2 linked regions of the Homo sapiens genome follow. The protein of the gene in region 2 interacts with the protein of the main gene of each other region in a biochemical or structural test. Each region holds a gene or a part of one and is shown on either strand. Other genes may lie near its edges.

Evidence for each region.
Region 1: the proteins of POLL (region 2) and MUTYH form a complex in vitro, tested with the Homo sapiens proteins (one study listed by IntAct).

Annotation. Positions count from the first base shown.
Region 1 is NC_000001.11:45,333,471-45,337,282, forward strand, and holds part of MUTYH (adenine DNA glycosylase), read right to left. Parts: intron 1,498-3,812; exon of another isoform or gene 1,357-1,497; intron 1,042-1,356; coding exon of another isoform or gene 1,036-1,041; coding exon 921-1,035; intron 164-920; exon of another isoform or gene 134-163; coding exon of another isoform or gene 92-133; coding exon 1-91. UniProt on the Homo sapiens protein: Involved in oxidative DNA damage repair. Initiates repair of A*oxoG to C*G by removing the inappropriately paired adenine base from the DNA backbone. Possesses both adenine and 2-OH-A DNA glycosylase activities.
Region 2 is NC_000010.11:101,585,899-101,589,810, forward strand, and holds the start of POLL (DNA polymerase lambda), read right to left. Parts: upstream 2,360-3,912; 5' UTR 1,924-2,359; exon of another isoform or gene 1,509-1,923; 5' UTR 1,463-1,508; coding exon 1,348-1,462; intron 1,303-1,347; exon of another isoform or gene 1,224-1,302; intron 259-1,223; coding exon 1-258. Other genes in the region: protein DPCD, read left to right, coding at 2,439-2,502.

The sequences.
Region 1 (3,812 bases), on a different chromosome or scaffold from region 2:
CGGAAGGCTGTGACTTCAGCTACGTCTCTGAATAGATGGTATGAGGAGACAGAGGCCTGCAATACCACCTCTTCCGGCTGCCTGGCCAGGCCTGCTGGGGCCCCAGGACACTCAGCAATCATCCCTGCACAGGCTGTGCATCAGGGTCTTGGGACACAGCAGCCTGTGGCAGTATGCTCCCACTTAGGGCTTCCCCCAACTAACCCCCTTAAGCTTTGGAGCTGGAGTCAGACCAGAGTTATGTAATTGTGTGTAGCTGTGGCTAAGTTTCTGGCCTTAATTTTCTCAGGGTGGTACTACTGGCTTGTCTCTGAGCCATAATGAAAACCTAATAGTTTTAGCCAGCTAGAATGTATACTGGTGCAGGACCTTCCTATTCACAAAACACTTTCAGGCTCATAAACTCATTTGGTCCCATGAAAGCCACATGAGGGAGGAAATGCTGAACTACTGCTCCATTTTACTGGTAAGAAAGCAGCCATTCAGAGCAATTGTCCCAATGTCACACAGCAATACAGTCAGAATTACACCCTCAGTGAGTCTCTTTTGTTTTGAGACAAGAGTCTGGCTCTGTTGCCCAGACTGAAATGCAGTTGCATTATCTTGACTCAGTGCAACTTCTGCCTTCCAGGCTCAAGCGATCCTGTCACCTCAGCTTCCCGAGTAGCTGGGACTACAGACGCTCACCACCACGCGAGCATAGAGAGGGGATTTCGCCATGTTACCCAAGCTGGTCTCAAACTCCTGGGCTCAAGGGATCCACCTGCCTCGGCCTCCCAAAGTGCTGGGATTACAGGTGTGAGCCACCGCACCTGGCCCTTAGTAAGTCTCTTAATGTCTTGATACGTATCACAATCCCTTCCCAGCCTGAATCTGCCTTTCATGGCCAATGAGCCTTGGGCCACAACCTAGTTCCTTACCATCACAGGCAGAAGGCTTGGCCTGACTGTTGTTCTTAGCATGCTTCTGCCTCCCTTCCTGGCTGGCTGCCTGCTTCCTGTGACCACTTCCCACGGCTGCTCGTGGCTTCCTCATGATGGCCTGAAACAAAAAGACCCAGCCAAAGCAGTCAGTCACAATGAGGCCAAATTTTGAGGCCTTCCAAGGGTGATAGCTATCTCCCTCTCATCCACCATTCACATGGGGTCCAGCTTCTCTCAAGCACTCTCAAGATGCTCACGGGTTTACTCTTGGCTGGCTGCAGCACTGAGATACAACTAGTATAGCTGAGCAAGTGGCCTCAAGGGGGCCGGCGTTACAGCCCTGGAGACATGCAAAGACTGTGAGGCCAGGGCTGGGATGGGTCAAGGATGAAAGCCTCCTGTTTGGGAGCATTTGTGTATCTCTGATGCTTACTGTGACTGTGTGTGTGGATAGGGGTTGTTTAGGTGTGTCTGGGAGAATGGGGGTAGGCGGTTTCTCTGCCTCTTAGAGATGTAGCATGGTTACACTGAAACAGCCTGTAGTAGTCATTAAGTCCAAAACCTTCATTTTATCCTAGAAGAAACCAAGGATCAGAGGGACAAAAGATCTGTCTGAGAACAGATGGCAAATCAGTGGGAGAACAGAGATTAGCTATTTTTATTCCTAATCTAGTAAACCATAGGTGGCTGACCATCAACAATGAGAAAATGTGCCTGGTTGATTTTCACTGCTCCCTAACTGTTATAATGGCCGCCTTTTCTCTAACAGCTAAAATTAGTTGATATTTTGTGAGTGCCTACTCTATGTCAGACCCCATGAAGAGCTTTACCGGATCTCTCAATCTCCTGGTGACTCTATGAGGTATGTACTAGTATCACCTCCACCTTAGTTATAAGGAAATTGAGGTTTATGGAGATTAAGCGACTTGTTCTTTCAAATCCACGACCAGCATTCTTATACTGTGATAAAATGCAGTCCCTGCTAAGCCTCTGTATCAAACTCTCCCCCCAAACCTTTGACTTTACCACCTCATTTTCATCAAAAGAGCTTGCCTCCTCCTTCAGAAAAAAAAAAACCAACTTCAAATCTACCTCCATTTGCACTGTCTTACCCTCCTCCTCTTCAGGGTCCTGCTCCTCCAATCCCGTCTAACTGTTGGAACTCAGAAACTAATACCCCAGGCCAGGCACGGTGGCTCATGCCTGTAATCCCAACACTGCGGGAGGCTAAGGCAGGCAGATCACTTGAGGCCAGGAGTTCGAGACCAGCCTGGCCAACATGGCGAAACCCCATCTCTACTAAAAATCCAAAAAAATTAGCCAGACGTGCTCGCTTGAACCCAGGAGGCAGAGCTTGCAGTGAGCTGAGATCATGCCACTGCACAGCCTGGGCAACAAAGACAGAGCAAGACTCTGTCTCAAAAAAAAAGAAAAGAAAAGAAACCAATACCCCAAAATATGGCCCTCTGACATGCTGAACTCAAGAAGCCGCAAGGTCTCTCTGATCCTTCCACCCCAGACTCTCCCAAAGCCAGGATAAAGTTGTTCTCTGGAACTCTTTATCTGCCTAAAGTCCAAACTCACTAAAAAGAATACTTGTTTTTTCTTCCCCTCCCAATAAGACTAACATGTAACCACACCTGAACAAACCCTTTCACAGGTATTGTGTACCTCAGGATCACTCAAATTCCAAAGAGAACTATTAACAAGTCAACCTCTGTCCCCATTCCATTCTCTCTAGTAATCCTTTATTGCCCTTCAACAGAATCTCCTTCTGGCCAAAGTTCGGTTTATTTAAAAACAAATAGAGCTGGACATGCTGGCTCAGGCCTGTAATCCCAGCACTTTGGGAGGCCAAGGCAGGAGGATTACTTGAGCCCAGGAGTTCGAGATTAGGCTTGCAACATAGCAAGACCCCGTCTCTACAAAAACAGAAAAACAGAATTTCTCTTCTACCCCTTGTCAGGCCTCTGAGCCCAAGCTAAGCCATCATATCCTCAGTAACCTGCACTTATACATCCAGATGGCCTGAAGCAACTGAAGATCTACAAAAGAAGTGAAAATAGCCTTAACTGATCACATTCCACCACTGTGATTTGTTTCTGCCCCACGCTAACTGATCAATGTACTTGGTAATCTCCCCCCCACCCTTAAGAAGGTTCTTTATAATCTCCCCACCCTTGAGAATGTACTTTGTGAGATCCACCCCCTGCCCCCAAAACATTGCTCTTAACTCCAATGCCTATCCCAAAACCTATAAGAACTAATGATAATTCCACCACCCTTTGCTGACTCCTTTTTTTCAGACTCAGCCTGTCTGCACCCAGGTGAAATAAACAGCCTTGTTGCTCAGACAAAGCCTGTTTGGTGGTCTCTTCACATGGACACACGTGAGACACCCCTCCCATAATCTGTTTTGCCAGATGGTATATAAACTCACGAACTCTGTAGGGAGATGGGTAATCACTTTATGGTTCTCCCAATGTGCATGTTAATAAATTTGTATGCCTTTTCTCCAGTTAACCTGCCTTTTGTGAGCTGATTTTTCAGCAGATCTTCAGAGGGCAAAGGGAAAGATTTTCCCCTTGGCTCGTAACACAATCAAATCCCACCCTCCTTCCCTTCATAGCCAAACTTCCTTCACCAAACCTGCTTACTTCCACATTCATTCTACAATCTATTCTCCAAAGAGCAAAGGAATCTTTTCCAGATCACGTCACTTCCTTCCTTATAACCTTCAATGGTTTCCCATTCTTTTTTTTTTTTTTGGGATGGGGTCTCACTCTGTCACCCAGGCTGGAGTGCAGTGGTGTGATCTTGGCTCACTGCAACCTCTGCTTCCTCGGCTCAAGCAATCCTCCCACCCCAATACCCCACCCCAACTCCAAG
Region 2 (3,912 bases):
CCAGCCTCCTCTCCTGAAGGCACAAGCTCAGCCAGGCTGACTTCACCAGCTGAGCACCCGGGGGCAGCTGGGGTAGTCTGAGAAGGCGGAGGGCTCGCTCATAGTCCATGCCTTCATCCACCACAATGTGAGTGACACCTGGGCCCTGGGCAGGGCATAGCTGGCCGCCATGCTGAACAATCTGCTTCTCAAAGAGTTCTGCCCGGGCTCGTCCAATGCCAGTGCGCACAACATGGGCCCGAAGGGAGCTCAGCCACTCTGTGGAAGGAACATCCAGATGACTACTGTTGTAACTTTTTAATTTTTATCTGCCACCCCCTGGCCACGACATAACTTCTAACATGATCTGAATGACGTGTTCACAGTCCCCTACCCTGAAAATAAGCATTTCCCTTCCATCCAGACAGCTTTCCTTCTACATATAGCAAATTTTCTCACAGGCCAGCACTTGAATGTAAGGGACAAGGATTTTCATACGTCCTGTTCCTTGGTGCAATCTAGAAGTGTCTGGCACATTGTAAGTAACCTGTAAATATTTGTTTAATGAATGCCTCCTCCCTTCTTACTTTGTTTTTTGTTTGTTTGTTTTGTTTTCTTTTGTTTTGTTTTTGTTTGGAGACAGTCTCACTCTGTCGCCCAGGCTGGAGTACAGTGGCATCGTCTTGGCTCACTGCAACCTCCATCTCCCGAGTTCAAGCGATTCTCATGCCTCAGCCTCCCGAGTAGCTGGGATTACCGGCGTGTGCCACCATGCCTGGCTAATTTTTTGTATTTTTAGTAGAGACAGGGTTTCGCCATGTTGCCCAAGCTGGTCTCGAACTCCTGAGCACAGGTGATCTGCCTGCCTCGGCCTCCCAAAGTGCTGAGATTACAGGCAAGAGCCACCGCGCCCAGCCTCTCTCCATACTTTGAATCCTTTATCATTTATTCTTTCAACAAAGCGCGTTTCTTGCCCTTACAGTCTGACAGACCCGACAACCCTGCCTCCAAAGCCTCTGCCATTTATTTGCCAATTTGGCTGCAAAACAACTAACAACAAGCCTGGGTAATGGAGGGGGGTTTCTGTCCCAGTCCTCAGGGCAAAAATTATACTGGTCATTCCCTGAGGGCCCAGGGAGTCTTTTCTGATGGATAGAGGTCTTCGGGTAGAAAAGAAGGTAACACAGCAAATAGCCTGTCCAAGACCCAGGACCAAGCTTAGCACAAGGTAGATACAAACAGACCTGCAGGCCCTGGACAGGCAGAGTCAGCTCCAATATCTGATTCTGGACATAAACAACGTAGGGCTGAAGCACATGAAGGCTGTGGGTTCAAGCACACGAGGGTTCTGAGACTGGGTCAGCTCACCTTCTGCTTCTTCTCCCTCTTCCCTCCTAGGAATCTTTGCAAGTACTTTTGATGATGCATCAGCATGAATTTTCTGCCGCTTGGGAAATGCCTTCAAGATACCCCTGGGATCCATTGAAGTATGGCTGGATCCCGGCCTATTGGAGCGTTGGTCAGGGCTGCTGCACGTGGAAATCCAGAATTGAGGCCCTCCAACCCCTTTGCCTATGGAGGTAGGGTCTTTCCTGACCAGGCTTTGGGGGTAGCAGCCCAGTTTGGGGAAGCGGGTCGGGGGAGGGGGTCTCTTCAAACCCGGTTAAACTTCAGTGGTTTAGCCTAGCTTCACACTCCCCAGCCTTTCGAAGTTGGAGTATTACGGGAAATGAGGGGAAGGCTGGTGCCATCGGGGGTACTTTTGAGGAGTAGGAAACGACACCATTCCTCAGAGGGGTTGCGCTAAAGATTCAGCACAGCCCTGCTGCGGCCCACTTCGAAGGGCTTTACCAAATGGGATGCTGGGCTAGGAAATGGAGCTTTAGGGGATGGAGCGGAGCCTGGGGAGGACCTGCACATAAACCCCACATACTATTTCTCTACCTCCAACACAGACTCGCAGAGGAAGGAGGAGGACTTTCGGGGGTGAGTGGGAACGCCCTGCACCTGTCCTGGTCTCAGCCTCTCGACATGGGGGTGCTCAGCGCCGCAGCTGCGGGGAGATGGGGCACGGCCGCAGCAGGTGTGGGGAGCCCTCCGGGAATGGAGGAGTCTCGCAGCTGCGGGTGAAGTCCCGGGCAGGTGCGGTGTACTCGCCGTGTACGCAGCTGGCGCAGGCCAGGGAATCCCAGCTCGGGGCTAGAAGAAAGCTGGAGTGCCCGACCCCGGCCCCAAGAGTCTCTCCAACCCCCAGAGTCGGTCCCCGGGTGGGGTCGACTACTGGCCAAGCTAGTCACCCGGGGGTGGGCAGGAATAGACCACTTACCAGCAGAGCCAATGAGAGCGGACGAAGGGGGGAAGGAGGGCAAATGGCCAGAATAGCTTCCGAGTCAGCCGGAAGTGACCCTCTGGAACGGTTGCCATGGCAGCGGCTGGGCGTGCTGCTTAGCAGGGGAAAGATGGCGGTGACGGGCTGGTTGGAGAGTCTGCGGACAGCCCAGAAGACTGCGCTGCTGCAGGACGGTAACTCGAGGGTCCCCACGGGCTCCTTCGTTTTTTTCCCTCAGGGTCCGGCCCTCCGGGAAGGGCCTCAGGGCCTGGGTCGGCAGAGCTGGAAGGGTCTCGGCGGTCAGCCGGGCCAGGTCCTGCATTTGCAGATGAGGAGACTGAGGTTCACAGAGATGACATGACTGGAACACATGTCTCCGGACACCCCTTAGATTCCTCTACACCATCTCGCTCCGCTCTGATTTCTGTTGCTAATATAGTAATTTCTTTTACATTCATTATCTCATTTGCTCCTCACCACTGTCCTGAGAGGCTAATTTTCACCCCGTTTTACAGAAGAGGAAACTGAAATCCAAGAATGTTTTAGACTTTAGAGAGGAGAGAGGCCTGGGCTCTAGTTCCGACTGTGCCATTAATTCACCACGGGCGCTTCAGTCGGCTCCTTTACTTGTTTGGGCCTCACTTTCCTCATCTATAAAATGAAGTGGATGGACTACCATTGTTATCTCTGAGGTCCTTTCCAGCTGTAATATTTTTGTTAAGTGAACTTCTAAATATTTTCTGTGTCTTTAGGGGAGCTAGAGCAAGAACCAAGGGCTGTGCCTGGAAGAAGTGGGCACAGGGGCATGGATACCTAACTTTTCCCCACCCTAGGATTGGCCGATGCCGGCCCCTTTGTGCACTTGGGTCCTTTCTGGACCCACTGGGTAGCCAGGATGAATTGCGTCTGAAGTTCCTGAGGCTTTCAAGATAACAACTGGTGACTCATGTTCACAGGCAGGGGCCAATCAGGGAAGCCTGGAGTTTGTGGAAATTAAAATCATTTACTCGTTCGTGCAACATTTAGGAAGACTTTTACTATGTGCCAAGCTCTAAACTAGAACAGAAAGAAAAAGATATGTTGTCCCAGGACTCAGAGTGGTTGGGAAAAACATGTACTTAAATAATAAGAAGCGTTAAATAGAGGTTGTAGTCTTGTATAAAATGGTAGGAAAGAGTGAAGGTGTAAGTGACATCTCTTTGGAGGAAGACCCAACAGAAGTGATGATGTTTCTGGGTCCTAAAGAATTAATAAGGTCAGGCACAGTGGCTCACGCCCGTAATTCCAGCACTCTGGGAGGCCAAAGTGGGCGGATCATTTGAGCTCAGGAGTTCGAGACCAGCTTGGGCAACATGGCCAAACCTCATCTCTACAAAAAATACGGAAATTATGGCCGGATGTGGTGGTTCACGCCTGTAATCCCAGCATGTTGGGAGGCCGAGTGGGCGGATCCCTTGAGGCCAGGAGTTCGAGACCAGCCTAGCCAACATGATGAAACCACCCCATCGCTACTAAAAATACAAAAAAATTAGCCAGGTGTGGTGGTGCGCACCCGTAATTCCAGCTACTCTGGAGGCTGAGGCAGGAGAATCGCTTGAACCCGG